Linked DNA regions of Homo sapiens: all the other regions are linked to region 1. Evidence: fine-mapped expression QTL. A gene starts in region 1. Each other region holds a variant in brackets. All regions are shown on one strand. Distances are from middle to middle. Region 1 holds the start of ZNF549 (zinc finger protein 549). Region 2 overlaps ZNF550 (zinc finger protein 550). Region 3 overlaps ZNF550 (zinc finger protein 550).

What was found. PIP is the estimated chance that this variant, and not a neighbour inherited with it, causes the effect.
Region 2: its variant is fine-mapped to the expression of ZNF549 in cerebellar hemisphere (GTEx, PIP above 0.99). The same link has a PIP of 0.9 or more in cerebellum, skeletal muscle and whole blood.
Region 3: its variant is fine-mapped to the expression of ZNF549 in anterior cingulate cortex (GTEx, PIP 0.97).

What each region holds. Positions count from the first base shown.
Region 1 is chr19:57,525,852-57,528,614 of GRCh38, reverse strand. It overlaps ZNF549 (zinc finger protein 549), which reads right to left and starts at 1,259. Exons shown (of 4, transcript NM_001199295.2): 1 at 1,009-1,259. The coding sequence starts at 1,041.
Region 2 is chr19:57,556,068-57,558,830 of GRCh38, reverse strand. It overlaps ZNF550 (zinc finger protein 550), which reads left to right. Exons shown (of 4, transcript NM_001397372.1): 2 at 2,474-2,600. Among named protein-coding and RNA genes, the nearest start is that of ZNF550, 2.4 kb to the left of the region's middle. The variant T/C (reference allele first, on the strand shown) is at 1,298.
Region 3 is chr19:57,551,683-57,554,445 of GRCh38, reverse strand. ZNF550 (zinc finger protein 550) reads left to right here. Exons shown (of 4, transcript NM_001397372.1): 3 at 1,724-1,819. Among named protein-coding and RNA genes, the nearest start is that of ZNF550, 6.8 kb to the left of the region's middle. The variant A/G (reference allele first, on the strand shown) is at 1,527.

The DNA of each region.
Region 1 (2,763 bases):
ACATTCCCTTTGGAAGTACCCCCGGAACCCCATGGCCCTCCTATCTGCAGGCAGCTTCGCCAAGGCCGACCCACACTTTCCCAGCCTCCAGCCTCAGCCCTCCCTCTCTTCATCTCAAAGTAAAACCTTAAGATTTCCCGTCTAAATTTAAGGCTTGGCTTGAGTCTACGCCCCAGCCTGTCTCCATTTACACATCACTGAGTCAGTCCCCTCCCATGAATTTTCTACTTATGATTCCAACTGCCCATGTAACAACTTCACTCTGTGGCAATTTAGAAACACCACGTCCAAAATTCAACTCCTACTATTTCCCTGAAACCTGCTCCCTCACCAGATTTCTTTGTCAACTCTTCCAGATGTTCAGGTAAAAGAAAAACTTGGGATCATACTTCACTCCCACTTTTGCTCATAGGCACAAATGATGGAGCAGAAAATCCTGCTGGCTTTACCTTTAAGATCTACCAAGATTCTTATTACTTAGGTCCCTTCAGCAACCCGTCTGGTCCAGAATCCACCATAATCCTCCTGGAGCCTACTACAGCAGTCTCCTCACCAGTATCCCTGCGTCCACCCCCATCACTCCGTAACAGTCTGTTTTCTCCACTCATTGCCTTTGAAATATTTTTTCAGACCCTCACTCAGATCGTGTTCTCCTTTAGTTCACAACCCTCCATGGCTCCCAAAGACTCAGAATTAAAAACCCCGGTTGCTCAGGCTGCCATGGCAGCCGTGCCTTCTTCTCCTCATTCTCTCTGCTCCCTGCAGACACAGGTCCGCCCCCAAGTTTCCGAATGCTCGCGACCCCGGCGCACCTCCCAGGCTCTGCGCGTGCAGCCCCCACGGTACGCAACGCTCTCCCTTCTTCACCTCACCGCCCGTCAGCTCTGAGGACCCCACCCAGAACTCCTCGCTGTCCTGGAGAAGAGGCCTGAACTGCAGAGACCCACGCAGGTGACCCCAGTCCGGGGCCTCAGGACCCAGGTGAGGATCCGAGGACTCCGCTCTCACCTGCGGCGTAATCACTAGCGCTGCCTCGGCCATGGGACTTTAGGCGGGGCGGGGCCTGGAAAGGCGGGCGGTAAAGCCCGGGATCCGGCGTGCGTGCGGTGGCAAATCGCTGGGCGACGCTCAGACCGAGACCAGGCAAGCTCCTCTGCGGGCGGACACCACCTCCACCGGTTTCCGGCTCCAGTTACCTGGCCCGGACCCAGCGAGCCGGAAACGCCCAGCCCGCGGACGCGCTCGCAGGCAGCAAAAACGACCACCACCGGAAAGACGCCGGAAGATTCTGGCGTATTGCGCACTTACGGAGGTGCCCCTTTCCTGGGCAATGATTGGTCTAAGGCCCCGGCACGCTCGGCGCACAGTATTCTGGGTGGTGTAGTTCCTACCACGCCGCAGTCCGCCGCGCTGTGAGGACTCAATCCAAGAAAGAGAGGACAAAGGAAAAAACCCATCAAACTAGGGTCAGCAAAGCCTATTACATACACAGGATAAAAGAATACGATTTGATCTTCATTTCTCAACACAAAAGTTGACATATATTGCATACAATACATTAAAAATGTTGACAATTGAGAATTGACGCGACCCTTAATTTTTTTCTTTTTTTTAATGTAGAAACTATAACCAAAAATAAAATTCAAAGGCCTCCCAACTATCTGAATGGACCCCCTCCTCTCAGCATTATAGAGTTAACCTGAAAATCTAGTTCAGGCCATTATGGAAGAAGGGGTTGGACATGCCTCATTCTACCCCTACAGCAATAACATCAGCATAGACCTTAAGTCTGATAAGAAACATTTACAATCTATTTCTCTGAAACTTGCTACCTGCAGGCTTCATCTGTATGATAAAACCTGGGTCTCCAACCAAGGTGATCACTAACAGTGGGGTCAGCATCCCCTTATCCCACACGTTTGTGTTTATTCTGTTTTTTTGCCCTCAAGTGTTAGTGACTTAAATTACATAATGTATCTATTATCATAAGTGGAACTGAAATGAGATTGCAGAAACATTATATCTTCTTTTTCTTTTCTTTTTTTCCTTTTTTTTTTTTGACAGAGTCTCACTCTGTCGCCCAGACTGGAGTACAGTGGTGCAATCTCTGCTCACTGTAACCTCCACCTCCCAGGTTCAAGCGATTCTCCTGCCTCAGCCTCCCGAGTAGCCGGGACTACAGGCATGCGCCACCACCCCCGGATAATTTTTGTATTTTTAGTAGAGACAGGGTTTCACCATGTTGGCCAGGCTGGTCTAGAACCGGCCTCAAGTGATTCGCCTGCCTTAAAGTGCTGGGATTACAAGCATGAGCCACCATGCCTGGCTTTTTTCCCCCATATTTAGCAATTAGCTTTTGTTGCTATCCATTGTCTTCATTTCTCTTTAGTTTTTAATTGTTTATAATTTTGACATTTTATAATTACTTAAGAAAGGTTAGAAAAATTACCATTTAGATTGGAGTCATATTAAATAAGACACCTATATTGTAAAAATATCTTTATGAATGTAATCTTTGGCTATAGTGTTGTAACCGAGCGAGTTATAGAGAAATGCCACACTCTGAGACTAATTCTGGAGTCCTTTTATTGCCAGCGACCGAGAGACAGCTAGAGCTCAAAATTCTTGGCCCCGAAGAAGGGGCTAGATTTCTTTTTATACCTTGATCTAAATAGGGGAGGGGGAGTTTAGCTGAAGCAATTTTTACAGAAGCAGAACAGGCAAAAAGTTAAAAGATAAATGGTTACACAAACATTTACAGGA
Region 2 (2,763 bases), 30 kb before region 1:
CCAGGGTTACTCTCTAGCAGTCACTCTGATTACTTTCATGATAGCCCAGATTACTGTCAGCTCCTGTCGTAGTTGTTAATTTCTCATCCACCTCTCCCTCCTTTGCTTTATTTCTGACTCCCTCTGGTGTCCGCTGCTTAAAGAGGTCTCGTCTGTTGCACCGTTTAAAGCTGACCAGAGTCTCTTTGGTCTCCTTGCTCTGTTTTCTTGTCATCTGAATCTTTAAGGCCATCTGACATTGCCTTACTCATTTATTTAGTTGCCTGTTTAGGATCTTTTTCCAACCCTGGAATGTGAGTGCCTGTTGCTTCCCTCTCCCAAGACCCAGAACAGCCAGGCTTAAGTACATTTATTGTACTTAATAAATGGTTGATGATTGAATAGGCCTCTCTTATAGGGACTCTCATCACATTTCCAATAAATCCACCCCCTCCTACCAGCATGGTCTGCAAGGCTGTACTTGGTTTGCCCTTTTGACCGCATCTTCTTTCTCCTCTTCCATTGTCCCCTTTCTCACTGCATTCATCCAGGGAATCCTGAGCTTGCCAAGCTCTTTCCCATTTTCAGCCTTTGCCCTTGCACTTCCCTTTGTCTGAGACATTGTTCTCAGGTCTCTGCGGGGCTGCAGTTCCACACCCATCCTGGCAGTGCTGGCTGTAGCTAAAAGCACCCCTCACTCCCACCTGCCTGCTCTCTGGCAGCTTGGTGAGGTGTTTTAGCGGTGCTCAAATGCTGCTTTTGCTTTTTAAATGTGAGGCTGTGCCTGATTTCTAAAGCTCCCTGAGCCTTTGCTGACTGTGAAATGGAAGTGATAACGACATTTACCTCTGGGCCTGTCAGGGGATTAATAAAGTTCCCAAACACATCAGGCACTTACATGTGCTAGGCACTCCACTGATTGCCTAAGTGAACATTTTCTGTTTAGTTCTTAGAGCTGCCTGCTGAGATGGGAATAGTTATTGTGTTGATTCGGAAATCGAGCCTTAGAGAGATCATGTGACATCGTCATAGTCACATAGCTGGCAAGTGTCAGATTCAGGAGGCCTGATTTAAGTCAGGCCTTTATTTGCTTTACCACGGCTAAGGAAGCCTTAGCCTGGCAGGGACACAGTGAGGACCAGAGGACTTAGTGAAGGGTGCCTGCCCCTCTACACCTGTGGGTATTTCTTGCAAGGTGGAGATGAGAGACTGAGAAAAGAAATAAGACACAGAGACAAAGTATAGAGGAAGAAAAGTGGGCCCAGGGGACTGGCACTCAGCATATGGAGGACCCACACCAGCACCAGTCTCTGAGTTC[T/C]CTCAGTATTTATTGATCACTATCTCTACCATCTCCATGAGGGGGATGTGGCAGGACTATAGGGTAATGAGTGGGGAGAGGGTCAGCAGGAAAACATGTGAGCAAAGGACTCTGTGTCATAAATAAGTTTAAGGAAAGGTGCTGTGCCTCGATGTGCACGTAGGCCAGATTTATGTTTGACTTTACCCAAACATCTCAGTGCAGTAAAGAGCAGTATTGCCGCCAGCATGTCTTACCTCCAGCCATAAGGCGGCTTTCTCCTATCTCAGTAAATAGAATGTACGCTCGGGTTTTACACCAAGACATTCCATTCCCAGGGACAAGCAGGAGACAGATGCCTTCCTCTTATCTCAACTGCAAAGAGGCCTTCCTCTTTCATGAATCCTCGTCAGCACAGACCCTTTATGGGTGTCGGGCTGAGGGAAGGTAAGGTCTTTCCCTTCCCACGAGGCCACATCTCAGGCTGTCTCAGTGGGGGGAAACCTTGGACAATACCCAGGCTTTCTCGGGCAGAGGTCCCTGTGGCCTTCCGCAGTGCATTGTGTCCCTGGGTACCCGAGACGGGAGAATGGCGATGACTTTTACCAAGCATACTGCCTGCAAACACATGTTTACCAAGGCACATCCTGCACAGCCCTAACTCCATTAAACCTTGAGTCAATACAGCACATGTTTCTGTGAGCACAGGGTTGGGGCTAGGGTTACAGATTAACAGCATCTCAAGGCAGAAGAATTTTTCTTAGTACAGATCAAAATGGAGTTTCTTATGTCTTCCTTTTTCTACATAGACACAGTAACGGTCTGATCTATTTTTCTTTCCCCCACACTTAGCTGCTGCTGTTGCTGTTATTGTGGTTGGATTAGTATCAGTCATTTTCCTCCATTCTTTTAATATGCCAGAGTACTTACTCTCTGCTTCCCATAGTCCTCGTGGGATTGCCATTGTTTGTGTCATCTTCAACAGCTTCCCCATAGAAGGCTTTTCTCTCAGGCACAATTGCATTGTCAAAAGGCAGTATCTGCCTCCCCTTTGAGCCCTGCACGGAAGTCAGCCCAAAGGAGACCTAGTTGATTCAGACCTGGATCTCTCTGCACATTGACTAGAGACTGAGTGACAGGTTCTGATCCTATGCGACAACACAAGGCCAATAGCATTACTTCTGTTTGACTTTCCAGATGTTGGTGACCTTCAAGGATGTGGCTGTGACCTTTACCCGGGAGGAGTGGAGACAGCTGGACCTGGCCCAGAGGACCCTGTACCGAGAGGTGATGCTGGAGACCTGTGGGCTTCTGGTTTCACTAGGTAATGACTCACCTCTCATCCCTGAGGAGGACCCTAACCCTGATTCTTGGCCAGGCAAAAAGGTCACTGGAACTGCCCACCTTTCTCTTGACAGACCTTTCTGTTCCCACCTCTTCCTGACTGGTCTCCCTTTGTCTGCATCAGAGATTGTCGGGGTAGAAAA
Region 3 (2,763 bases), 26 kb before region 1:
CAGCCCAGTGACGCCATCAAGGATGTCTTGGTTCTCTGTTCCTTCTTCTTGGTTCAGGCTTCTGATTGTCCTCAGGCTGGCTCCTCATAGGGATGCTGGGTGCTGCAGCCTTGACTGGGGCAGCAGGCCCCCATGTTCAATCCATCCTCCCACCTTGGAATAAATGCTTTCTTTTCACAATGAGAATCCAGCTTTGGTCACCTGCCTAATGAAGACTCTTGCATTACCAATTTATTTCAACCACTGGTTTTTCTTTTCCTTTTTTTTTGAGATGGAGTCTTGCTCTGTCATTCAGGCTGAAGTGCAGTGCCATGATCTCAGCTCACTGCAGCCTCTGCTTCCTAGGCTCAAGCAATCCTCCCAACCTCATCCCCTTGAGTAGCTAGGACCATAGGTGCACACCACCATACCTGGCTAATTTTTTATATTTTTGGTAGAGACGGGGTTTCACCATGTTGGCCAGGCTGGTTTAGAACTCCTGGCCTCAAGTGATCCTCCTGCCTCGGCCTCCTATAGTGCTGGGATTACAGCATGAGCCACCATGTCCAGCCTCAGCCAGTGGTTTGCAGCCCCATCTGGGCACCAGAATTTTGGGGGGCACATTTTGGAAGTACTGATGCCCAGGTCTCACACGAAGAAATTTTGTTTCATTTGGTTTGAGGTTGGAATCACGCATCCCCAAGTGGTTCTGAAAGCACGAGGTGTTTGAGAAGCAATGATTTAGATTTGTTAGAAAATGCCTCCTGGGGCCGGGTGCAGTAGCACCTTGGGAGACTGAGGCAGGAGGATCACTTGAGGCCAGGCACTCGAGACCAGCCTGACCAATATTGTGAATCCCAGTCTCTATTAAAAATACAAAAACTAGCCAGGCATGGTTTTGCATGCCTGTAATCCCTGCTACTCGGGTGGCTGAGGCACGAGAATCCCTTGAACCTGGGAGGCAGAGGTTGCAGTGAGCCGAGCACTGCACTCCAGCCTGGGCAACAGAGTGAGACTCTGTTTCAAAAAAAGAAAGAAAGAAAGAAAGAAAATGCCTTCTGGAGGAAGCAGCACACCTTTGCCGTGTCCCATGGCTGTCAAAGTGTTGTGTGCCTGAACAACGTTGGCTTCCATAGACGGAGGTCATGGGCAGTGGGTGTTGTGTAGACAGATAGCACTACCCTCCATGGCAGTTGTAGCCCAACAGTGGGATTTGTGCCTGTCTTTTATCTCCTTGGCTGCCATAATAAAATGTCATGGATTGGGTGGTTTAAACAACGAGAGTTTATTTTCTTATGCTTCTGGAGGCTGAGAAGTCCAAGATCAAGGTGTCGGCAAATTTGATTCCTATTGAGACCTCTCTTCCTGGCTTGCAGATGGCTGACTTGCTGTGTTCTTACAAGGTGGAGGGACAGAGGAGAGATCTCTCTCTGTTTTTATGAGGCCATAATTTTATCAGATTAAGGCTCCACCCTTGTGGCCTCATTTAATTTTAATTACCTTCTAAAGATCCTGTCTCCATATACAGTCACGTTGGGTGTTAGGGC[A/G]TCAACATATGATTTTTATGGGGAACACAGCTCACTCAGAGCAATGCCCTTGATTTTCAGGGCTCACATCAGCATTTTGCTTACTTTGGGAGCAGCTGCATTCATGTCTGGACCCTGTCATGAAGTCCTAGGCAAGATGGAGAGACTTTCATTTTCTCATTAAATTACCCCTATTCTATTTCTTTTGCTATCAACAGGGCATCGGGTTCCCAAACCAGAGTTGGTCCACCTGCTAGAGCATGGGCAGGAGCTGTGGATAGTGAAGAGAGGCCTCTCACATGCTACCTGTGCAGGTAAGCAGCCACCAGCTGGTCATGTGGAGTCATGGCAGTCTTCAGATAATGTGAGGGCACCACTGCCTCTGAATTTCTGTGTGAAACTGCTCATTGTGGCTTTCCGGGGGCCTGGTTGTTTCTGACTCACTTTGGGTCATAGTGTCCATCATCAGGTGAGCACTGAGCCACACAATTATTCAGAGACACAGGTACCTTTTGCTGTGAACAGGAATCTTTATGGTTGCTCTGGCTCAATCCAGCTGGTAGAAGGGGAACAAGAAGAAGGGGAGAAGTCATACCCAGTTGTACACATACTTGACAACCACATAGTCTTGACAAGAACTAGGCATTTGGCCACACCTAGATGCTCAGGACTGACAAATGTGATTTGGCTATGTGCCCATGGAAAAGAATTAATGGGTTTGGTTTACATCACCTCAGACTCCTCTACTCAACAAAATCAGAGTGATATAATTTCTGTGTCATTGAGTTGTTAGAGGATGTAGAGATAACACATGACACTGCTTAGTTCAGTTCCTGGTCCATAGGATCAACAAATGTCAGCTAGTTAGTATTATGCATGAACAGTTTTAATCATCATAAATGTAATGTCATACATTTCTTTCTGGACTCAAGAGAAAGGGGACTTTCCTCCCCTTGATATTACTGTCTGCATTATGCTGTGAATCCCACTCTTTTCCACCCTCTCCGTCCACTCATCCATCCTCCAGTTAGACCATCAGAGACTCGGAAGCAGCCCTTTGCTCCATATCTTCCTGCCCCTCTTGCCCTGAGAAACACCAAGGTGACATTTGGCCTTCTCTGCCCTACATCTGTGCTGATGAGTGTAGCTGGAGCCATTTGCCTTGTGGATTTGTATCACCACTGAGTCATGGGCTCTCCCCTTGGGCTTCTTGGCCAGCCCCATCTGCAACCCTGTGTTCCAAATACCTCCCTTCCCA